Linked DNA regions of Homo sapiens. The protein of the gene in region 1 purifies or fractionates together with the protein of each later gene. This does not show direct contact. Each region holds a gene or a part of one and is shown in the gene's direction. Other genes may lie near its edges. The genes, in order: GLUD1, NNT, KDM4C, NSRP1, DDX42, CPSF6 and NRCAM.

Evidence for each region.
Region 2: the proteins of GLUD1 (region 1) and NNT fractionate together in Homo sapiens (co-fractionation; one large-scale study listed by BioGRID). This does not show direct contact.
Region 3: the proteins of GLUD1 (region 1) and KDM4C purify together in Homo sapiens (affinity purification with mass spectrometry; one large-scale study listed by BioGRID and IntAct). This does not show direct contact.
Region 4: the proteins of GLUD1 (region 1) and NSRP1 purify together in Homo sapiens (affinity purification with mass spectrometry, with the first as the bait; one large-scale study listed by BioGRID). This does not show direct contact.
Region 5: the proteins of GLUD1 (region 1) and DDX42 purify together in Homo sapiens (affinity purification with mass spectrometry, with the first as the bait; one large-scale study listed by BioGRID). This does not show direct contact.
Region 6: the proteins of GLUD1 (region 1) and CPSF6 purify together in Homo sapiens (affinity purification with mass spectrometry, with the first as the bait; one large-scale study listed by BioGRID). This does not show direct contact.
Region 7: the proteins of GLUD1 (region 1) and NRCAM fractionate together in Homo sapiens (co-fractionation; one large-scale study listed by BioGRID). This does not show direct contact.

What each region holds. Positions count from the first base shown.
Region 1 is NC_000010.11:87,074,344-87,077,843, reverse strand, and holds part of GLUD1 (glutamate dehydrogenase 1, mitochondrial isoform a precursor), read left to right. Parts: intron 1-1,187; coding exon 1,188-1,268; intron 1,269-1,820; coding exon 1,821-1,876; intron 1,877-3,229; coding exon 3,230-3,293; intron 3,294-3,500. UniProt on the Homo sapiens protein: Mitochondrial glutamate dehydrogenase that catalyzes the conversion of L-glutamate into alpha-ketoglutarate. Plays a key role in glutamine anaplerosis by producing alpha-ketoglutarate, an important intermediate in the tricarboxylic acid cycle.
Region 2 is NC_000005.10:43,651,680-43,655,179, forward strand, and holds part of NNT (NAD(P) transhydrogenase, mitochondrial), read left to right. Parts: intron 1-59; coding exon 60-205; intron 206-1,338; coding exon 1,339-1,534; intron 1,535-3,500. UniProt on the Homo sapiens protein: The transhydrogenation between NADH and NADP is coupled to respiration and ATP hydrolysis and functions as a proton pump across the membrane. May play a role in reactive oxygen species (ROS) detoxification in the adrenal gland.
Region 3 is NC_000009.12:7,166,973-7,170,472, forward strand, and holds part of KDM4C (lysine-specific demethylase 4C), read left to right. Parts: intron 1-2,825; coding exon 2,826-2,918; intron 2,919-3,500.
Region 4 is NC_000017.11:30,179,316-30,182,815, forward strand, and holds part of NSRP1 (nuclear speckle splicing regulatory protein 1), read left to right. Parts: intron 1-1,592; coding exon 1,593-1,701; intron 1,702-3,500. UniProt on the Homo sapiens protein: RNA-binding protein that mediates pre-mRNA alternative splicing regulation.
Region 5 is NC_000017.11:63,801,670-63,805,169, forward strand, and holds part of DDX42 (ATP-dependent RNA helicase DDX42), read left to right. Parts: intron 1-3,401; coding exon 3,402-3,500. UniProt on the Homo sapiens protein: ATP-dependent RNA helicase that binds to partially double-stranded RNAs (dsRNAs) in order to unwind RNA secondary structures. Unwinding is promoted in the presence of single-strand binding proteins.
Region 6 is NC_000012.12:69,249,569-69,253,068, forward strand, and holds part of CPSF6 (cleavage and polyadenylation specificity factor subunit 6), read left to right. Parts: intron 1-1,560; coding exon 1,561-1,770; intron 1,771-3,482; coding exon 3,483-3,500. UniProt on the Homo sapiens protein: Component of the cleavage factor Im (CFIm) complex that functions as an activator of the pre-mRNA 3'-end cleavage and polyadenylation processing required for the maturation of pre-mRNA into functional mRNAs.
Region 7 is NC_000007.14:108,149,793-108,152,436, reverse strand, and holds part of NRCAM (neuronal cell adhesion molecule isoform A precursor), read left to right. Parts: intron 1-1,683; coding exon of another isoform or gene 1,684-1,717; exon of another isoform or gene 1,718-1,730; coding exon of another isoform or gene 1,731-1,742; intron 1,743-2,289; coding exon 2,290-2,527; 3' UTR 2,528-2,644. UniProt on the Homo sapiens protein: Cell adhesion protein that is required for normal responses to cell-cell contacts in brain and in the peripheral nervous system. Plays a role in neurite outgrowth in response to contactin binding.

The sequences.
Region 1 (3,500 bases):
CTGTTGGGAGTGGGAGGGTAGAAAAAATGCTGCAGCTTCTTGTGGGTATCCTTCACACACAAACACCCAGTGCCCCAAGCACTGTGCAGTCAAACATCAACCCCACTCAGACTTTCCTCCTTGGGATTGAGAAGCAATGGATTATAGAGAAAGAAAGGTGGATTAGCACTCCAAAACTTTGAAGAGTAATTGACCAAGACCCCCAAAGCCAAAGCTGTGGGCATCCCCACTTCCAGTATACCCTGTACCAACACGTAATGGCTACTAGATACAGGGGCACTAGTACCTACCTGTCTGCTTGGCTACCTGCCCTCTTTGCAGAAGTGGTGAAGGGAATCACTCAACCTCAGAAAGGGAAAATGGCTTTCTCATTTTCAGATTGAAAGAGGTTGGCAGTGGGTGAGGAGAATAACAGGTAAGGATCTCTTTTAATATACCCATTTGAAGCCAAAACCTCTGTTTAGACATACGGTATTTTGAACCTGGTGATTATTCATTGCCCATGTTTGTGAATTATCAGAAAGCAGAATTCTTGCCAGGCATAGTGGCTCATGCCTGTAATCCCAGCACTTTGGGAAGCCAAGGTGGGAGGATCACTTGAGCCCAGGAGTTTGAGACCAGCCTGAGCAACATGGTGAGATCCTGTCTCTACAAAAAATTCAAAAATTAGCTGGGCATGGTGGTGTGCACTTGTGGTCCCAGCTACTCAGGAGGCTGAGGTGGGAGGATTACCTGAGCCTAGGAGGTTGAGGCTACAGTAAGCCATGTCTGTGCCACTACACTCAGCCTGAGCAACAGAGCAAGACCCTGTTTCCCACCCCTACCCCCCCAAAAAAAAGCAACCTGAATTCTTGAACTCCCTGCAACCAGGTCACCCAAACCAAAGGTAAAAGGAACATAAAAAAGCCTTCTGGAAAGTGTACAGAAATTCATTGCAGGGTGATTTTTGTCTTGTGAAATCATAGTTACTGTTATTAGCAGGTTTTTTTAACGTTTTATATTCATTTTTCATGGTGTTCTGATGTACAAGCTGCTTCAAGTGTTTTTGGACATAGCTTGGATGTAAAATGTAAAAAGTGGATATTTTCAATTTGTAGCTTTCTTTTTTGAAGCTTACTTAAGTTTGTTCTAAATATAACCCCTTCTTTCTCACCCACCCCAACACATTTTTTTAAAAACACCACCAGGTATCCGTTACAGCACTGATGTGAGTGTAGATGAAGTAAAAGCTTTGGCTTCTCTGATGACATACAAGTGTGCAGTGGTTGGTAAGTGATCGCCTTTCTTGCTGCCTAATGAGAACTCTGGGGAAATATGTTTACACACATGTTACTGTTAAGATGCTGTAGAAATATACCTTATCAGAACTGATTTTTTTTCAAGTTGTAATCTTTAAGACCTGCATCATTTTTCAATTAGTCTAAATTAAGATATAGCCTTTTTTTTTTACATGGGGGATTTTTTAAAATAGGAGATAATTGGATTTTAAGTCTAGATCTTTGTTTTCAATTCCTCAACACATTCTGTAAATAAGACCAAATTATAGTAGAAGGAGAGTAAATAAGCTATTATCTTTTAGAAGTGGTAAAGAGCACTGATTAAATATATATTAGAACTTGGCTAGCCAATTTTATTGAACAATTTCTGTTCAACAAAATGTTGTTTAAAGTACAGTTTAGAAAATGATGGTAGGTTTATTTCTTGAATTTTCAGAAATTCAAGCTTAAAGCATCACGTTTCTCTAATATTGTGTGGTGCTTTCTGTCATTTTACTTTTTTAACATTTATATGGAATAGCAACCATCAGCCTTCTCTTTCAGATGTGCCGTTTGGGGGTGCTAAAGCTGGTGTTAAGATCAATCCCAAGAACTATACTGTAAGTATGAAAGTGATATTTGTTTTTTATTGTTGTTGTTGTTTTTGTTTTTCTGAGACAGAGTCTTCCTCTGTTGTTCAGGCCGGAGTACAATGGCGCAATCTTGGCTCACTGCAACCTCCGCCTCCCGGGTTCAAGCAGTTCTCCTTGATCCAGTAACTGGGATTACAGGTGCACGCCACCATGCCCGACTAATTTTTGTATTTTTAGTAGAGAGGGGATTTCACCATGTTGGCCAGGCTGTTCTTGAACTCCTGACCTCAGGTGATCCACCTGCCTTGGCCTCCCAGAGTGCTAGGATTGCAGGCATGAGCCACCGCACCCGGCCTCAAAGTGACATTTGTGCACACAGTGCATTTATGAAGGACTTGAAATTACTGGGCTTCTCTGTATCCCCCACTATCAGTGAGATCAGTAGTCCCCATTGCTTTTCAAATGGAATAGAAAAATGTAAAGAATTAACTCATAGCGTGTTTTGCCATATAAAGATCACCTACTTAATATCTATATCCTTTATCATTTTCTGTTTCATTTGGTTTTGTTTTTATGAGTCTTTTGTTTTACTTTTTTGCTTTTTGTTTTATTATTTTCTTACTTAGTTAAAACGTAATTAATATCTTCACTTATATACTTATACCCATATTTATATAATGTCTTCACTTAGACACTTATACCCATATTTAAGAAATACTGTGATCTGATTAGCCAGGCATAGTGGTGCACACCTGTAATCCCAGCTACTCGGGAGGCTCAGGCATGAGAATTGCTTGAACCCAGGAGGCAGAGGTTGGCTGAGATTTCACCACTGCATTCCAGCCTGGGTAACAGAGCAAGACTCTGTCTCAAAAAGAAAAAAGTATTACTGTGATCTGAAGTTTTTATGTCAGGATCTGATTCTAGTGACACATATCTTAACTAAGACTATAAAAACCTTACTTTTTATCCAGTCAGTTCCAAGTTAATTCAAACTGATTGTCACAATGCTTTACATAATACTAAATTATCTATATACAAACATAAATGCATGATTTTTATTCTCTTTAAAATTCACCATTTAAATGGAATATAATTATATTTAAATTAATCTTAATTAAGATTTAGTGTATTTTTCAGTGGGGAATTAATAGAATGGGAATTTGAGCCCTAGTTCTACTATCTTGTTTTTATAACCTACTTTTTTGATCCCTTATTTTGTCACCTTTAAAATGGCAATGCCTACTTTATGAGTTGTTCTAAGGATTACATGAGAAGACATATGAAAATGTACTATAAATAGAAAATAAGATGCTAGCTATAATCTCAAGCGATTTTTATATCAATTTTTTCTTTTGTTTTTGTTTTCTTATTTTACAGGATAATGAATTGGAAAAGATCACAAGGAGGTTCACCATGGAGCTAGCAAAAAAGGGCTTTATTGGTATGTGTAGCCACATAGTTTTTGGTATAAAGTGGGAACATCTAAAAATTTTTTTTTTTTTTTGAGACGGAGTCTCACTCTGTTGCCCAGACTAGAGTGCAGTGGTGCGATCTCGTCCGCCTCCTGGGTTCAAGCAATTCTCTTGTCTCAGCCTCCCAAGTAGCTGAGATTACAGGCATGTGCCACCACACCCAGCTGATTTTTGTA
Region 2 (3,500 bases), on another chromosome or scaffold:
CATGTTGCTCAGTGAGCTCAAAGAGGTACTATGTTTTTTATTTCCTTTGGTTTGCTAAGGTGGCTTTCTGGTGACTCAGAGAATGCTGGACATGTTCAAGCGTCCCACTGACCCCCCAGAATACAACTACCTGTACCTGCTCCCTGCCGGCACCTTTGTTGGTGGATATTTAGCTGCCCTCTACAGTGGTTATAACATTGAACAGGTAAGATGCTCTTTGTAAGTTTTTATATTTACCACAATATTTTCTTCTCTATTAGATTTAACATTGTTAGTTATCCTAATTCAAAGTATCGAGCAAATACAACTCTGTCAAGCAAATACAACAATAACCCTAGAAACATCTTGGTCAAACTGAGCATTCTCTTCCCCTAAGGATCAGGACCCTGGATTCTAGAGACAGATTTTTCTGGTAACTGAGTTTAAATATGGGTTTATGTCTTTGTTTTGATACATTTTTCCACATGTAAGAGGAGTTAAGGTTATCAGTATCTTCATTATGTATCTAGCTAGATTGCGGTGGATTTATAATGAAACAATACAAAATTTGAAAAATTATTATTAAGTACTATTAGTTCTTTTCCTATTCTTCCTCTACAAATCCAGCACATCATCTCTTGCTACTAAGAGATGTTATATATTCATAAAAAAATCCATAAAGAAAAGGATAGTTTAAACTTAATGTTGTATAGAAAAACAGAAATAATCCAGCTGGACTTTGAAAGTTCCAACTTGTAATATAACAGACCTTCAGCTTTGTTCTGAACTCTGTATTTTCTATTTCTTTTCAATGGCTGTCTTTTAGTTTCTTCTATGTTTCCAACCTGCAGTATTTATTGAATGAACAATTTTTTTTTTTTTTTTGAGAAGAGTTGGAGCAGTGAGTCAGAAAGACCTTAGTCTGAATTCCAGATTTCCAATTTATTGATCATTTGCCTTGGAGAAAATATGCAACTTCTTTAAGCTTTGATTCTGTCTTTTGCAAAATGAGGATAATGATTTTTCCCTCTTGTGGATCTCATGACACTGTGACAACACAAATAAAACATGTGGCAAAGCCCCTGGCACTTACCTCAGGGGTTGGCTCTTTTACAGCATTTGGTCAGGTTTAGTATTTTTAGATCCAGTAATGACTCCATTTAAATTTAGGTACTTTTATGTGTATTTGTGCATGATAGCAAATCCAGAAAAAATCAATTTATATAAATGGTATAAGTGCAAATACAATATAAGTATTTAATATGTTAATATTCCTAATTGGCAGGAAAATATATTGAAATCTCTAAGCTAATAGACCAAAGGTTTTAATAATCTCTCTCTCACTTTTCCTTTGAAAAGATCATGTACCTAGGCTCGGGTTTGTGCTGTGTCGGTGCCTTGGCTGGCCTCTCCACCCAGGGAACAGCACGTCTTGGCAATGCACTGGGCATGATTGGGGTTGCTGGAGGACTGGCAGCCACCCTCGGAGTCCTAAAACCGGGCCCAGAATTACTAGCTCAGATGTCTGGAGCGATGGCTTTGGGTGGTACCATTGGTAAGCACTTGTGGGCTTCTGCCTTCATGTGAACTCCAGTTTCTCAATATATATTTCTAAGGTCCATATTGATGAAATAATTAAATTTTGTTCATGGAAGTTGCTTCAGTTAATATTATTTTGGTGAAAATTCATTCCAGTTGGTGTAATTCTCATTCAAATACATTTTAGAACACTGAATAAATGCATCAACTGAGTCAAAATATCCTATACTCAATTCTTATCTTCCTTTACTGACTGTGTCCCGTTAGCTGATAATGGAATGGGGGATTGGAATCCTTATGTATGTACTATACATAAGCTAACTTTTGTTCTGCTGGGTATAAATAACAGCCAAAGATTCTGCTTCATAGACCTGTTAAAAATGAAAAAAAAAAAAAAAAACATGTGCCAGCAGAAAAACTACTGTTTTAATTTTATTCAGTTGTTTGCTGGATTGTTAAATTTTCAGGAATTTTTAGGCTGGGCATGGTGGCTCAGACTGTAATCCCAGCACTTTGGGAGGCTGATGTGGGTGGATCACTTGAGGCCAGGAGTTTGAAACTGGCCTGGCCAACATGGTGAAACCCCGTCGCTATTAAATATACAAAAATTAGTTGGGCATGGTGGCGTACAACTGTAATCCCAGCTTCTTGGGTGGCTGAAGCATGATAATCGCTTGAACCTGGGATGTGGAGGTTGCAGTGAGCTGTGATCATGCTGCTGCACTCCAGCCTGGGTGACAAAGCGAGACTCTGTCTCAAAAAAAAAAAAAAAATTTTTTTTCCAGGAATTTTTAAAGTTGATTGTTAAACACAGCCATTATTAAATACTAAATTACATAAACTTAAATGAATCAGAAACAAAGTTAATAATATTAAAAACTCGTAACTTTCTAATTAATTTACTAGGTTTTATTGTCTATGCTCTTGAGGTTACTTATGTCTATTGTATGTGTATAGAAGAAATACTATGTATCAGTGGGCTGTGGTACATCTCTTTCCAATTCTACATTCAATGACATCACATTGGTAGATTGAAATTTGACTTGGTAGCAGTATTGCAGTGTGGAAATAAGCAAACGCTACAAATCTGGGCTTGATTTATTGTTTTGTTTATTGTCCAGACGTGAGAAAGTGATGGAGAAAATGTTAATGATGCAGCTTAAACTTGAGATGTTTTGACTGTAGCTGTGACATTGTGAATAGCACAAATAATTGAGCAAATAATCTTCCAGTATTTGAAAACTATTATCAGATTCAGCAATAAAGTCATTCATATGGTTGATAAATGAGTGAAGTTCTCGCATACATTCTGTTGTTTTACTTTCGTCTTACTTATTAAAGCAAATAAAAATATCAAACAATGTTCCTGTTGGAAGTATGCTTGTTCATCAGTTGCAAACACTAGGTTGGCTACAGATGTAAGAGTTTAGCAAAGATCCATAAAAACATTCTTTGAAAGTCAATTTGTCTACATGGAATTTTCAGTAAAGAGCACTATTTCTTATTATTTGAAAATTGTGTGCTAGCCACCTTTATATCAGTTAAAGCTCATGTATTTGTATGTGCATGTATTTTTTTCCCCTGGAACTGGTTATTAAATGTTTCCCAGTGGAACACTGGCTTTAGGCCTCCTTTTATACTTCCTCAGGAAAGCTTTGACTCTTTTCTTGATAATCTCTGGGGAAAGGGACTTGAAGGAAAATGTTTGCTCTGTAGGTTCATGGCAGGAAAACCTTTAGACATGATCTTAGCAAATATTCTGAGCCCCACTCCTTCTGTATCACCTACCTATAGCCATGCAGTTCCTTCAGAGGCTCCTAATTTGGGTATTTACTGCCCAGATTTTTGCATTTCTTTACCTTGGGACTTTGCTCCCACCTACCCACCTGAAAACCAAGGTCTTCTTCATGTTCCAGGTGTTTCTTATGTGCTCAGGAGAAAGCACTGGCTATAGAGAAGAGGGCCTGGGTTGCAATGGGGAG
Region 3 (3,500 bases), on another chromosome or scaffold:
CACCATCAAATAAACAAAGACAGTTTTAAAAATAGATATGACAGATAAATAAATACCTGCTGCACAGTGCTTAATATCCTAGGCATATGCGTTTTTTGACCCTCAGAGTAGTCCTACAAAATAGATGTTATTGACTCCTGTCTTACAAATGAGGGAAGAAAGGCTGTGAACAAAATTTTTAATGATTTAAGAATAATTTTTTAATAATTTGTCCGAGAGCACGCAGCTGGTAAAGAGAGGGCCAAAATTCTCTCTCAGCTCTGCCCTAACTAGGGTGGACAACCATCCCTGCTTGCCTGGGACCATCCCTGATTTTAGTACTGAAAATAACTACATCCCAAGGGACCCTTGAGTCCCAGGCGAACTAGGACGGTTGGTTACCCTAGTCCTAGCACAGCATACTCCCTTCTAGGTTTGTAATTGCCTTTTTGTCTTTTCGATGTTTTAAGTGGTCTAAAACAAATGAAAGTAGGCACAGGTGGTTCTAGCTATGCTATCAACTAAGTTGGGTAAATCAGATGACACTATGGCCTAGTTCAATGTTAAAGAAATGTTTCTGCTCAAACAAGGCCAGGAAGAAAACCCTTCCCATTGTTAGCCCTCCCGGAAGTGACAGCAAGGGTTCTCATGTGACTGGCACCTAATTCCACTGTATTGTTTAGCTTATTCAAAATGCTAACAGTACGTGGATAATAATACGTTCAATTGTATGTTTGATCTTTATTAAGACCGTGGTGGATGTTCATCAACCAGAATTGGTAACTTGTGCCTGAGAGACATACCCACCTGGGTGTCTCAGCAAAGCTAGACCAATGCATTGGCACAGATGTGGCCAGTTAATATTATCATCCACTCAAGAGAGTGTTTGCTTAGTGCAAAGTGCAGCGATATATCAGTTGGACATTCTGTGAATTAAACAATAAGTGTAGCTGGGCACAGTGGCTCATGCCTGTAATCCCAGCACTTTGGAAGGCCGAGGCAGGCAGATCATCTGAGGTCAGGAGTTCGAGACCAGCCTCGCCAACGTGGTGCAACCCCGTCTCTACTAAAAAAATGTATAAAAATTAGCCAGGCATGGTTGGCGGCATGCTTATAATTACAGCTACTTGAGAGGCTGAGGCAGAAGAATCACTTGAACCCAGGAGGCAGAGGTTGCAGTGAGCCGAGATCGCGCCGTTGCACTCCAGCCTAGGCAACAAGAGCGAAACTCCGTCTCAAGAGAAAACCAAAAACCAAAAAAAAATTAGTGTAAATTTTTTTCAAACTCTAGATTTTTTTTTTATTAACATGGCACAGCTGTGTGGTTTAACTTACCTTTTGACTAGAAGTATAAGCATATTTTCATTTCTTTAAAAAATTCAGACAAAATTTAGGGACTTCAAAAATACCATGTGGTTCAGAGTTAGAACATATTAAGTATTCTACCTGATTACATCCGTTTTGTTTCCTGCTAGATTAGTTCATGTTGTATTAAACCTAAACCAATCTAAACCTAGGTGCTCTAGGTTTCTGTTAGCTGGTGTTATTTACCTTTTCTTTGACAAAATCTTTTAAAATGTTAAAAACAATTGGTTATGAAATTATTTGCTTCCATTTGGTTAGTGCGAGAAAAGTTTTAAACATTTTGTTTTAGATGATGATGTATTTTCACACATTGATGAGGTTTACATGTTAGGAGGTTGAGAAACAGATTTTCCCAGCTCCTTTGATGGCATTTGATTGAATTTGACACGTGAATTTTGAAAGTTCAAGCTCTGTAAGAAATGCATAAATTATTTTATCTGGGAGGATTATTATATAAGAGTAAACAGGCCGGGCATGGTGGCTGACACCTGTAATCCCAACACTTTGGGAGGCCAAGGTGGGAGAATTGCTTGAGTCTAGTCAGACCTTATCTCTACTAAAAAACTACAATAAAATAAAATAGCTGGGCGTTGTGGCACACAGCTATGGTTCCAGCTTCTCAGGAGGCAGAGGTGGGAGGATTGCTTGAGCCTGGGAGGTTGAGGTTGCAGTGAGCTGAGATCAGGCCACTGCACTCTAGCCTGAGCAACAGGGCAAGGCCCTGTCTCAATTTAAAAAAAAAAAAAAAAAAAGGAAATATATTATCTTTTCTTTCACAGAGAGAAACAATTCTCCTTGTTACGTTGTCAGAGCCTCTTAAAGAAATGAACCGTGCTGACAGACCCAACCCATTTTAATGCTGAATTTCCCACAGTCTCATGTTTTGTGATTTCCATTTGATCAGCAGCTACTTTTCTTTGTTGTTGCTTCGCCAGATAAAGTTTTCATATCCTGTATTCCAAGACACTCATTTCCAAGAATTTTGGCCTGTTTTGAAATGTATTTTGTATTTAGTTTATTTATTTATTTTTTTGTTTTGAGACGGAGTCTTACTCTGTCACCAGGCTGGAGTGCAGTGGTGCGATCTCAGCTCACTACAACCTCTGCCTCCCAGCTTCAAGCGGGTCTCCTGCCTCAGCCTCCTGAGTAGCTGGGACTACAGGCATGCGCCACCATGCCTGGCTAATTTTTGTATTTTTGTTAGACAGGGTTTCACCATGTTGGCCAGGATGGTCTCGATCTCCTGACCTTGGGATCTGCCTGCCTCAGCCTCCCAAAGTGCTGGGATTACAGGCGTGAGCCACCATGCCCGGCCTCTACTTAATAAGGGAAATAACTCTTCTTACTTCCTTGGTTGTTGGCTGGTTCCCTTGTTTGTTCTGTTTGAGTCCTTTTCATCTTTTCATGTAGTTAATTGGAGCCTTTAAAAATGGTCAGTGCTGTTTTTTTAATATGTATCATGTTATATTATCTTTCATTAGGTTGAGTTTGAAGATGGATCCCAGATAGCAATGAAGAGAGAGGACATCTACACTTTAGATGAAGAGTTACCCAAGAGAGTGAAAGCTCGATTTGTAAGTGCTGGCAGATGCCACTTGGGGACCTGCCAAGTGAATTCCTTGTCCTCACCTCATGTTTCCCAAGCCCAGCAGGAAACATACTTGGGCTTTTGGATTAATTCTAAAAAAAGCCAATGCAACATTTTCCTTAGTGGAACCTATTGAATGCAAACTTCAAATTCAACCAAAATCGGGGAAATTAATGCATGTGCTTTACTTTTCTTCTAATGAAGTCACATGATGCTTCTTTGTGTTGACATTTATTGGTGCACAAAAATACTTACTGAATGTGTGCTCTGTGTAAAACACCAGGAGCAAACAAAGATACCATCAAGGCATTTGCAATCTTGTTAGTAGAAGCAACATTAAAAGTATTCAGGAGTAGATCAAAGGGGACTCGGCATAATTGAATGTCTGTCTATTCTTTTATAGGTTTTTCATGGATTGACTACCTTCTGTCTCAGAAAGTTACTGATGTTTGTGTCAGTTCATCATTAAGCTAAACTCTGACTTTCATAATAAAAGGGATAAACAAAGCCTAAATGCTAGTTGTGGGAATACTAAAGCAGTTTTTTAAAAAGGAAATAGTAGTTTCAT
Region 4 (3,500 bases), on another chromosome or scaffold:
AAAGGCACAAGGAAACAGTAGCAGAATCTCTCCCCTGTGGTTAGCTGTTTGCTCTGTCACTGAACTTTAGGGTTATGAGTTTGTGATCATAATTTATATATAGGAATTCAAGACACAAGGAATATGGTATTATATAGCAGTATAAAACAGAAAGGAAAGTTTAACTAAAAACACAGTTGAACTCTTCAGTAACTATTATTTCTACTAGACTTTTCTCTTAGTTCTCATTTTGTGGCTTTTGCCTTAGAACATGATCTGAAATGTAAAAACATTTATTACAAAGTATAACGCCATGGCATTTGTCAGAAACAATATAAATATAATTTTAAACCCTAGTTACATTTTTTTGGGATGAGAAAATAATAGAGTAACACCACTCAAGGAGGATCAATGAGGCAATTAGAAAAAGAATAACATTAATTGAAGAAAGAATAAAAATTGGATGAATTAAGAATATCTTAATGCTTTACCTTAGTGCTTTCTACTCATGATTATTTCTCAAGATCTAAGTAGAATATGTATTTATAAAATACTTTTTTTTTTGAGACTGGGTCTCTGTCACCCAGGCTGGAGTGCAGTGGCTCAACCATGGCTCACTGCAGCCCTGACCTCCCAGGCTCCAGTGATCCTCCCACCTCAGCCTCTTGAGTAGCTGGGACTACGGGAACATACCACCACGTCTGGTTACTTTTTGTATTTTTTGTAGAGACGGGGTCTCACTATGTTGCCGGGGCTGGTCTCGAACTCCTGGGCTCAAGCAATCTTCCTGCCTCAGCCTCCCAAAGTGTTGGCATTACAGGTGTGAGCCACCATGACCAGCCCTGTAAATACTTTAATTGACAAATGCTCATCAGCTTTTTGGACAGAGTCTCGCTGTGTCGCCCAGGCTGGAGTGCAGTCGTATGATCTTGGCTCACTGCAACCTCTGCCTCCCAAGTTCAAGTGATTCTTATGCCTCAGGCTCCCAAGTAGCTGGGATTACAGGCATGCACCACCACACCTGGATAATTTTTATATTTTTATAGAGACGGAGTTTTACCATGTTGGCCAGGTTGGTCTCGAACTCCTGAGCTCAGGTGATCCACCCACCTCAGCCTCCCAAAGTTGTAGGATTACAGGCGTGAGCCACTGCGCCCATCCTCTTCAGCTTTTAAGTAGAAGAAAACCAAGTCTATAACATTCTGTCTAAGCATGTACTATGTGTTTAGAGTGCCAGTCGGCAAACTTTCTGTAAAGGACCAGATAGTATTTTAGTATTCATATTTTAAGACTTTAAATTTATAAATTCATATTTTGAATGCCAGATCATATTCATACTTTAGGGCTTTTTGTGTATATGATCTCTGTCGCAGTTACTGAGCTCTGCCTTTGTAGTACAAAAGCAGTTGTGGACAATACATAAATGAACAGGGCTTTGTTTCAATAAAAATTTATTTATGAAAACAGGCAACAGGCCAGATTTGGCCTGCAGTTTGCCAACTCCTGATCCAGCGAGTAGTTTACACACTGTATGTTATATACTGTATGTCTGTAAAATGAAACTGCACTGTGCCTTATTGAATATATTCTAATTTTTGCTTTCCCTCTGTTAGCATGTTTGGATGTAACCAAGCAGAAAGATCTCAGTGGATTTTATAGGCACCTATTAAATCAAGCAGTTGGTGAAGAGGAAGTACCTAAATGCAGCTTTCGTGAAGCCAGGTGAGGAGACGTGTATGAAATATTTTGAAGAAAAATACTGTTAATAATCTGTGGTTGTGGGGTCATTTTAACCCTCTGAAAGATGGAAGATTACAACATTGCATATTGTGTTGTCAGCCAGCCTTACCTAACTGAATGAATGGCTAGAAATTTGCAGTTTCTTGATTTTAAAACCTACAGATTTAGTTTAAGATCATTTTTATTCTGCATTTCACAGAAATTGTTACATTAAAACAGTGATTGAGTTTAATATTATTGTAAAACCAAAGACAGACTTTTAATGTATAAAGTTTCTGAATTTTTAAGTGATTTATGGGTCTTAACAAGGGAGAGCAAAATCTTCAAGGGAAAGCAAAATCAAATTGTAGTTTTTTCTTTTTTCTTTTTTTTTTTTTTTTTTGAGGCAGAGTCTCACTCTGTCGCCTAGGGTGGATGGAGTACAGTGGTTCAATCATAGCTCACTGCAGCCTTTGCCTCATGGGCTCAAATGATCCTCCCAAGTAGCTGGGACTACAGGTGCAAGCCATCATGCCCAGCGAATTTTCTTTTTGTGTTTTTTGTTGTTGTTGTTGTGTGTGTGGTTTTTTTTTTTTGTTTTTTTTTTTTTTAGATGGAATGGAGTCTTGCTCTGTCACCCAGGCTGGAGTGCAATGGCGCGATCTCTGCTTACTGCAACCTCTGCCTCTCAAGTTCAAGGGATTCTCGTGCCTCAGCTTCCTGAGTAGCTGGGACTATAGGTGCATGCACTACGCCCGGCTAATCTTTGTATTTTTAGTAGAGATGGAGTTTCACCATGTTGGCCAGACTAGTCTCGAATTCCTGACCTCAGGTGATCCACCCGCCTCGGCCTCCCAAAGTACTGGGATTATATGCATGAGCCACCACGCCCAGCCTCTTTTTGTATTTTTGTTGTGGAGATGGGGCTTTATGTTGCCCAGGCTGGTCTTGAACTCCTGGGTTTGAGGGATCCCCCCTCTATCTCAGCCTCCCAAAGTGCTGGGATTACAGGTATGAGCCACTGCACCTGGCTGCTTTTTTTTTTTTTTTTTTTTTTTTAAATAAGAATGTGGGTATTCCTCATGATCCTTAAAATGATTGGTGCCTGGTACCTTAAAATGATTTTGCTGTCAGAATTAAGGAGAAAGTTGGAAAGAATTAGGTGTCTACAATATAAGTCTTATATACATGTTCAGATAGTGTATAAAAAGGAAAGTGGTTTGTTTTCATAAATAGAACCCAGCCTTCCTAAAATGTAAGACTTACATATCGGGGCTAGAACTGCACTGTTAGTATGTAGGCACTAGTCACGTGTAGCTACTTAAATTAATTTAAAGTAAATAAAGTAGGTTGGGCGCAGTGACTCACGCCTGTTATCCCAGCACTTTGGGAGGCTGAGGCAGGTGGATCATGAGATCAGGAGATGGAGACCATCCTGGCCAACATGGTGAAACCCTGTCTCTACTAAAAATACAAAAATTAGCTCGGCATTGTGGCACATGCCTGTAATCCCACCTCCTGGGGAGGTTGAGGCAGGAGAATTGCTTAAACTCGGGAGGCGGAGATTGCAGTGAGCTGAGATAGCGCCACTGCACTCCAACCTGGCGACAGAGCCAGACTCCATCTCAAAAAATAAAATGGCTGGGCACGGTGGCTCATGCCTATAATCCCAGCACTTTGGGAGGCCAAGGCGGGCGGATTGCGAGGTCAGGAGATTGAGACCATCCTGGCCAGCACGGTGAAATCCCGTCTCTACTAAAAATACAAAAAATTAGCCAGGCGTGGTGGCGGGCGCCTGTTGT
Region 5 (3,500 bases), on another chromosome or scaffold:
GTCTCGAACTCCTGACCCCAAGTGATCCACCCACCTTGGTCTCCCAAAGTGCTGGGATTACAGATGTGAGCCACTGCATCCGGTCACATTTGTTTTTTTAATTGCTATAAATTTTTACTGTTGGTCCTAGATCTGGGGCAGATGAGAGGCTGTTTCTTCACAGTGGAGCCAGTAATTACAGGATCCTTAAGGAATGAGGACATCGGTATACCCACTTGAAAAAATATCAGTGTTTCATCCAGGTTAAATATCAGCCGAGATCTCACATACACTAATGATTCTAGATCTGGAGCAGTGGTTCTCAGTGTGGACCAAGAACCCCTTTCAGGGAGCCTACAGAGTCCAAACACTTTTCATTATACCAAGATTGTTTTCCTTTGTTACTGCATCAACATTTACATTGTTGGTGTAAAAGCAGTGATAAGTAAAACTGCTGATGCCTTAGCATGAATCAAGCCAGTGGCACCAAACTGTTCTAGTAGGCGTATTCTCTGTTCTCAGACCATTGCAGTTAAAAAGAAAAAAAAAGGCCAGTTTCACTCAAGAATGCCCTGAACAGTAAAAATTATTAAAGTCGTGACCCTTGAGCTACATGTCTTTTTATTCTGTGTGATAAAATGGGAAGTACGCATAAAGCATTTCTGTTGCATACCAAAATATGATAGCCATTTCAAGGAAAAGCACTTATGTGTTTGAGTTGTAAGGTGAACTAGCTACTTTTTTTCATAGAACACCACTTTCACTGGACAAAATCAATGACATTTCAAGGAAAACAATTGAAAGTGTTTATTACCCATGATAGACATTCAAGCTTTCGGCCAGACGCAATGGCTCACGCCTGTAATTTCAACACTTTGGGAGGCTGAGGCGGGTAGATCGCTTGAGCTCAGGAATTTGAGATAAGCCTGGGCAACTTGGTGAAACTCCATCTAAATTTTGTTTTTTAATAACAAAATTCAGGCTGGGTATGGTGGCTCATGCCTGTAATCCCAGCACTTTGGGAGGCCGAGGCGGGTGGATCACCTGAGGTCAGCAGTTTGAGACCAGCCTGACCAACATGGAGAAACCCCATCTCTACTAAAAATACAGAATTAGCCAGGCATGGTGGTGCATGCCTGTAATCCCAGCTACTCGGGAGAGTGAGGCAGGAGAGTCACTCAAATCCAGGAGGCGGAGGTTGCAGTGAGCCGAGATCATGCCATTGCACTCCAGCCTGGGCAATAAGAACAACACTCCATCTCAAAAAAAAAAAAAAATTCAAGCTTTCAAGCAAAAATTAGAATTTGGAAAACTTACATCTACCACAGTAGGCTTGACAGCTTTTCAGTACTTAAAGACCATTGTGACAAAATTGATGGTGATATTAGTAACTGATTTTTAATATAATGAAATGTGTTAACATTTGGATGATCTGTATATAACCTCAGTGAACCAATATTTTCCAAATGATCAATGTATGACATTACAAAGTCAAGCATGAATAAAAGCTCAACTCAAAATACATGATAAATAAATGGATTATAATGTAACAGAGTGTGAAAACTTCAGTAATATGGTTTCAGATTACACAATGAAAATAACTTTTAGGAAATGACCACTTGTCAAGTTTTAGTGTAAAATAAAAAGTATCTGAAAAGGGCTGGGTGCGGTGGCTCATGCCTGTAATTCCAGCACTTTGGGAGGCCAAGGTGGGCAGATCACTTGAGGGCAGGAGTTTGAGACCAGCCTGGCCAACATGGTGAAACCCCCGTCTTTGGGATTGGTGGCAGGCATCAGTAATCCCAGTTACTCAGGAGGCTGAGGCAGGGGAATCACTTAAACCTTGGAGGAGGAGGTTGCAGTGAGCTGAGGTTGTGCCACTGCACTCCAGCCTGGGAGACAGAGCAAGACTCCATCTCAAAAAAAAAAAAAAAAAAAGGTATCTGAAAAGGCTACTAAAATACTGTCCTCTCTTTTTCAACTACGTATTTTTCCTTTGCTTTTTTTTCTTTTTTTGAGATGGAGTCCTGCTCTGTCGCCCAGGCTGGAGTGCAGTGACGCAACCTTGGCTCACTGCAACCTCCTCCTCCTCCCGGGTTCAAGAGATTCTCCTGCCTCAGCCTCCCGAGTAGCTGGGACTACAGGTGTGTGCCACTACGCCCGGCTAATTTTTGTATTTTTGGTAGAGACGGGCTTTCACCATGTTGGCCAGGCTGGTCTTGAACTCCTGACCTCAAGTGATCCATCGGCCTCAGCCTCCCAAAGTGCTGGGATTACGGGTATGAGCCACTGCTCCAGGCCTGGAGGCAAGAATTTCTTATAGGCTTAAATAAAACCAACCTATTGCAATAATTTGAATATAGTAGGAGCTATTTAAGTCGACATTAATAAAGAGATTTGTGAAAATACAATAGTGTCACTCTTCTTCCAATTTTTTTTATGTATCCAGAACTATGATTTTTTTTTTTAACTACCTATAGAATGCTTATATTTTTCTTAAAAAATAAGTTTAAGAACCAGGCATGGTGGTGCATGCTTGGAGTCCCAGCTACTGGAGAGGCTGAGGCAGGAGAATCACTTGAGCCCAGGAGTTTGAGTCTAGCCTGGGCAACATAGCAAGACCCTGTCTCTGAAAAAAAAAATAGTTTATAAAAAATAATTTAGCCAAATTGATAGGTGGTGATGTGCTTATGTTTTGTATACCTACTACACTAAGCTATGAAAAGAATAATAGAAGTGACTACTACTTTCTGGAATTGGAAATTCTTGGCCATACATTTTTTAAAAGTTATAAACAACTCCATGTTTTTAAACAGAATAGAACTCCCTCTAAAAGCAGAGCTATCTCCAAAATAAATATTAGGAGTGTTTTTAAATGCTTAGAGCTAGGTTAAACAGCTTTATTCAAAACATATTTAAATGTTATATGGTGAAATATCTTCTCTGTCCTCTGAGGTCTTTGGCATTATAGAGAGATTCCTTAGTCTGCTTCAATGTTGTTCAAATTCGAGGTTTCCTTAAGAGTCTCTTTAGGAAGTAGGTTGGTGTTAGGCTAGGCACAGTGGCTCATGCCTGTAATCCCAGCTACTTGGGAGGCTGAGGTGGCGTGAGAATTGTTTGAACCGGGGAGGTGGAGGCTGCAGTGAGCCAGGATCGCACCACTGCACTACAGCCTGGGTGACAGAGCGAAACTGTCTCAACCAATAAAAGAAGTAGGTTGGTGTTTATATTGAAAATAGGAACAGAAAACAAACTAGCTATACTTTTTAGGATCTAAGCTGAGAATAAATTAATTTTTTTGCTTTCTCTAGCTGGAATGGCTTTACTTGTGTAAAATTTGGAAAAGATTATTTTGCAATAAAATCAAACTTACAGAATTGACTCTTGAATTCTAGACTAACTTTGAATAATTGGACCTGCAGATTGACTATCCACCATTTGAAAAAAACTTTTACAATGAGCATGAAGAGATAACCAACCTCACTCCACAGCAGTTAATAGATCTCCGGCATAAGCTCAAT
Region 6 (3,500 bases), on another chromosome or scaffold:
TGTCTTTTTCCTTATGTCAGATGTTCTATGTCATAAGAATAAAATGGTTCACACCAATACAAGTACTTAGTTGTGGAAAGGGAGAGTAGAAGATAAAAATGGAGATTTTCCTGTGCTACAGGCTTAGTCAAGCTTATGGTCTATTTAATGGTTATCAAAGGCAATTAAATAGTGTTGAGTGTTCTGCTTTTACCTACATTTCATTTTTCATGTACTTAGTTACAAATTGAACCCTCTTCTATTTTTTTCCTGCTCCTGTTTCTGTTTCATTTTAGTTTTCCTTTTCCCTGATTATCATTTAGGCATGTAAGTGACACCCAGTAGCATTGCTTTAATTCTGCTGGTGACAGTGCCAAAGCTTTACTATACTCTTTTTGTTGTCTGTTGCTTTTCTCTTGCTAATTTGCTTGACTAGATAACTAAGAATTCAGGTAAGCATTAGCTCTTTGTTCACTGAGAATAATACAACTTGCAAGATAATTAATTTGGATTGTTCTACATGTATTTCGTTTATTTCTCTTTACCTTGTTCATTTATTACGACATTTTGAATTATTTACATACCCATATTTCTTCTTTCTTTTATGGCTCAGCTCACTATGCTTTTTTTTAATACTGGTAGCTTCCTCAAGGTTGGAAAACAAGATCTGAATACTATAGAAAATAATAACTATTTTTCTGTGGTCATATTAAAGATATAATGGCTTTGGATTTTGGGGTGATTTTTCTACTGTCAGTTTAAAAAAAACTTGTCTATTTGCATTTGTGTGTTATTACTTCTAGTTAAGAGTATTTCCAAGGAAAGTTTCATGTTACTTATTTTGTTTCCATGTCTTTTTCCAAAAGAACTTATTTTTTATATTATAATAAATATCAGTGGAAAAGTAGGTTTCGTTATATAGAAATTAACTTTAGGCTGGGTGCAGTGGCTCAAGCCTATATTTGGGAGGCCGAGGCAGGAGGATTGCTTGAACTCAGGAGTTCGAAACTAGCGTGGGCAATGTAGCGAGACCTGGTCTCTACAAAAAAAAAAAAAAAAAGAAAAAAAAGAAAAGAAATAAAGGAAACCCCCTTTTTTTGTTTTTTTGTTTTTTTTTGAGATGAAGTCTTGCTCTGTCGCCCAGGCTGGAGTGCAATGGCACGATCTTGGCTCACTACAACCTCCGCCTCCCAGGTTCAAGCGATTCTCCTGCCTCAGCCTCCTGAGTAACTGGGATTACAGGCGTGTGCCACCATGCCTGGCTAATTTTTGTATGTTTAGTAGAGACAGGGCTTCATCATGTTGGCTAGGCTGGTCTCGAACTCCTGACCTCAAGTGATCCACCTGCCTCGGCCTCCCAAGTGCTGGGATTACAGGTGTGAGCCACCACTCCCGGCAAGAAATTCACTTTTTAGACCTGTTCAAGAATACATCTATTGCATAAAGTGGAAAAAGATTTGTACTGAAATCCTTGGCCTTTTTCCATCAGATTTTTAAAACAAAAAGTTGAATTTGTATTCAAGTCTATTTTAGTAGTATTTTGACTTTTGTATAATCTAGAGCATTATTTCTGTATCTCAGGAAGCTGAATATGGTGGGCATGATCAGATAGATTTGTATGACGATGTCATATCTCCATCTGCAAATAATGGAGATGCCCCAGAAGACCGAGATTACATGGATACTCTCCCACCAACTGTTGGTGATGATGTGGGTAAAGGAGCAGCACCAAATGTTGTCTATACATATACTGGAAAGAGAATTGCATTATATATTGGAAATCTAACATGGGTAAGTGAAGTTAATATAAGAATTAAATTATTGGTAATTGATTTTGAACTGCTCTAGTAATTAATGTTTTTCTCCAGATTTTTATAAGTTTGAAGTTACTGTGTTTTTCTATATGTGTTTGCTTGTCCAATGAGGAGGGAAATACAAATATCTTTGCAACATCGTTAATTCGAATTCTTCTAGTTTTGAGTTTTGTGGTCATTCAACTTTTCTTGGTGGAGATACTAGTTAAATATAGTTAAATTAGTTTTGTCTTCAGTTACCTTTTTTATGCTACCACTTTACCTTGCTTCCGATAGCCCAGTTTCACTAAAAATAATGCTCACATGGGGTCTCAAACCAGGATTCAAGTGTAAAAGGAAAGAGACATAGTATCACTCCTGGTTTAAAAATAGTGTCCATTATTTAATTTGTGTTACAAATTTGAGTTTTATTTCTGCCCTTAAATTTGAAATCTGATTTATAGAAGCACTTCTGTGCGTATTATATTTTAATTTGGGTTGTCATGAGACTAAGATTATTGATTTAGAGCTTCATTAAATGCACATATGTATATTTATTTTTTATTAATATTACATCTTAAGTATCATTAAAATAGTCCTATAGAATGTTTGTATTTCTACTTAGTTATATGTATACTTGAAAGTTAAAAACTTGTATATGCAAAAATCAATAAAACTTGGCACCCTTGCATTTCCTTAATAACACTGTATTTTTAAACGTTTTATTTACATTTCTTTTTTTCAGGGGGAGACAGAATTTGCAAAACTCTGTCACCCAGGCTGGAGTGCAGTGGTGTAATCATAGCTCACTGAAGCCTCAAACTCCTGGGCTGAAGTGATTCTCCTGTGTCAGCCTCCAAGTAGCTAGGACCACAGGCATGTGTCACTCTGCCTGGCTAATTAAAAACAAAACAAACACTTTTGTAGAGCTGACTTCTTGCTATATTGCTTCAGGCTGGCCTCAAATTCCTGGCCTCAAGTGATCCTCCTAACCAAGCTCTCAAAGTGCTAGGATTATGGTGCCCAGCCTATTTACATTTCTTTTAAAACTAAATGTAACAGATCTCCCACCACCCAGTCTGAGTATTCTATAAAATTGGAGACAGTAGCAGTGTAGTTATGAAAGTATGGTTGCTAAGTAAGTATTTGGATCTTAGCTCCACCATCTATTATTAGTTTTGTGACCTTGTTAAAGAGTTAAAGCTCTTTAACTTCTATTGTATCATGTGTAAAATGGGTATAATAATAGTGCTTATATGGTTGTTATAAGAGTTAGTTGATACATAAAGTATATGGTAGATATTAAATACATGTTAGTTTTTTCTTATCTGCATTTTAATTCAAAAACAAGATGAAATTCAAAATACTTTCCTTTAATGGGAGGAAGTGAAATTGGTTTTATTCACAATTTAAAATCATAGCAGTTTAAAGCTGTAAGGGACCAGAAACTCTTGAGAGTCAAATCTTATTGTAACCCCAAGGGTATATACCTTCTAGTTTCTGAAATACTTATCAGGGAATGAAGTTAGGTTCCCAGATGGTTTTTGTGCTGTTTAAAAATTGGAGTCTGACTGGCCATAACTAGACTTAGATTTGCACTCAGCATTTATTTTCTCTTTTATGTCTCAAATTTCCCCTTAAAAACTAGACTGGGATAATAAAAATCTTGGTTTTATTTTAATGGTTAATGAGGGGGAAAATATCTTGCAGTGGACAACAGATGAAGAC
Region 7 (2,644 bases), on another chromosome or scaffold:
CTCTCTCTCTCTCTCCCTCCCCCCAGCCACACCAAGCTCCTTAGTGTTCCTAGAACCTGCCAGGCTTCCCCTCACCCCGAGACATTTATACTGCTTGTTACTCCTGCAGGAACTGCTCTCCCTCCAACTATTCACCTTGCTAACTCAACTCTTTTAAAGTTGTTGACCAGATATTACTGCTTGATGAGGTCTTCCTGGACATCTTATTAAATGCCAGCTCTCCATCCCTTCTCCAACACCTTCTGCAGTCTTTACTCAGCTCTATACTTTGCATAGTGCTAATCCTCTTCTGACATAATATATATGTAATTTTTTTTATTATGTTGATTGTTAATTGTATTTTCTTCCACTAGAAATAAAGCCAGTGAGGTGAGGGTTTTAGTCTGTTTTGTTTGCTGCTATATTCCCAGTGCCGAGAACAATCTATCTTAGAGTAGTCACTCAATAAACATTTATTGGATGAAGGCATGGGTGGATAGATGGCTAGACCAAAGAAATGCCACAGATGACAAATTTCCAGCAGTGTATTCCTTGGGACACTAGTTCTACAGAGCAGAATAAGACTAGTCATTGGAATCCAGGTGACAAATTCTGCCTGTTATTGAACTCTTCAGCTGAATTAACTGTCACACTGAAACATGAACTATATTTCACAAGAAGGATTTAATAATTAAACCCCAGAGATGTTGTGTAGGCTATTTTCATAACAGGTTAGACACTCAATGCTATGTCCTCTGAAATGCTCACAAACACAGACCACCCCAAGATGATACCTCTCCAGTTGTTTATTAGCAGTGGTGAAAATATAGTTTATTCAGTTTGCAATAAGAAATTGTGTATTACTGAAACAGGTTGTTTTCAGTGGCATATGCCAGTGTCATATTATGCTAGCATTATTTCCCAGTCTTCAGATTTTCTTCTTGGAGAAAAATTGAAATCCCTAGTAAAAGTTATTGTCAAAAGAGCCAGGATACTTGTGCATCTTGAAATGTTTGTATCTTGGCTTGAAAAAAAAAGTCACTGTCTGAAACAGAGGGAGCAGTAAAGTCTTAGCAGAAATTGCTAGATTAAATACTGCAGCCAGTGATACCTTTTGTATGTTAAGGCTTTTTCATTTTTACATTAGTAAAAATGTATATGTTTCCTATTTTGCCTTGCATTTTTGTTCTTTGAAAGAAAACAAAATGTTAGATCCTGTCATTGCCTTTTTCTATTTTTTTCCCAAATGTTACCTATTAAAAAATAGGTCAATATGCATAACTAGGTATTTGACCGTATGGGTGAACATTCAAAAACATAATGATTACTCTTTGTCTTCCAGAAATTGTGCTTACGGGTTCAACAGAGAAATAAGCAAAAATTGTAATAATGGAATCTTGTAAAGTCGTATTAAAGTACACTCCTCAGATTCCCATCCAGTATAGTCAGGCTGCATAACACACAAGGAAGAAGGGAGCTGGGGGGTTAACATGAGTGTAGGAAGCATTTGCTATTACATGTTTGGAGTCATTCACATTCTTTAGAATATATTGGCATGCCATTCATAGTACAAATGTAGAGCTTTTAAGTTAAAGTGCGTCTCTTTCCAGATTAATAAATCTTTACTCATTAACTAAAATTTTTACCAAAAAAACAAAAAAATACTGTGTACTATCAGTATAAGGATTTTGCTTTTCTTCTTAGGCTGTTTTCATTTGTTTCTTCTGCATCCTTTTAATGGAATTTTGTAGGTCTCTTGAAAGGTAAGGTTGAAGTTTACAGTCTGGCCTGCATTGATAACAAAATTATTTGAAATGCAGGATTTTGCTTCTCCTTCTGGCTCAGAAAAAAAAAATCCACATTTCACACTTAACCAAAATCATGCTCCATTCACAACCAAGGAATCAGAGATATTATGCAGTTTAACATACTAACTTCTTTACTTGCCATAAGCTTTTGCCTTTTTGAATTCAAAATAGTGATGATTTTTCTACTTTTCTGAATTCTTTCTTATTTAATGCTTGTGATTATTTCTGGATTGCTTTCAACTCAGGAATCAGAATTTGTCATTGAAATTAACAAACACTATTGGGAGCCATCCACTCTACTGAAGACTTCATGATTCAACCATTTCTGCTCCTGATTTCCATTCCAACTCATCCTCGTCATTGGAGTCAACCTGAAAATTAGATTTGGCCAGAGAAGCCCAGGACTCCAAATGCTTTCTCATAATTTGCATGCATGGTCTTTAAAAACAGAAAATGTTACCTAAATGCCAATCTTGACAAAAATGTTTTCTCTTTCTTCCAGTGATGCAGAAGACCACAAGCCTTTGAAAAAAGGAAGTCGAACTCCTTCAGACAGGACTGTGAAAAAAGAAGATAGTGACGACAGCCTAGTTGACTATGGAGAAGGGGTTAATGGCCAGTTCAATGAGGATGGCTCCTTTATTGGACAATACAGTGGTAAGAAAGAGAAAGAGCCGGCTGAAGGAAACGAAAGCTCAGAGGCACCTTCTCCTGTCAACGCCATGAATTCCTTTGTTTAATTTTTAAGCTCTTTGCCAATATTCCATTTCTCTAGAATGTTTATCCTAAGCACTTGTTTGTCAGCCCTCTCATACTATGAACATATGGGTAGAGAGTATATTTTCTGCTGTATGTTA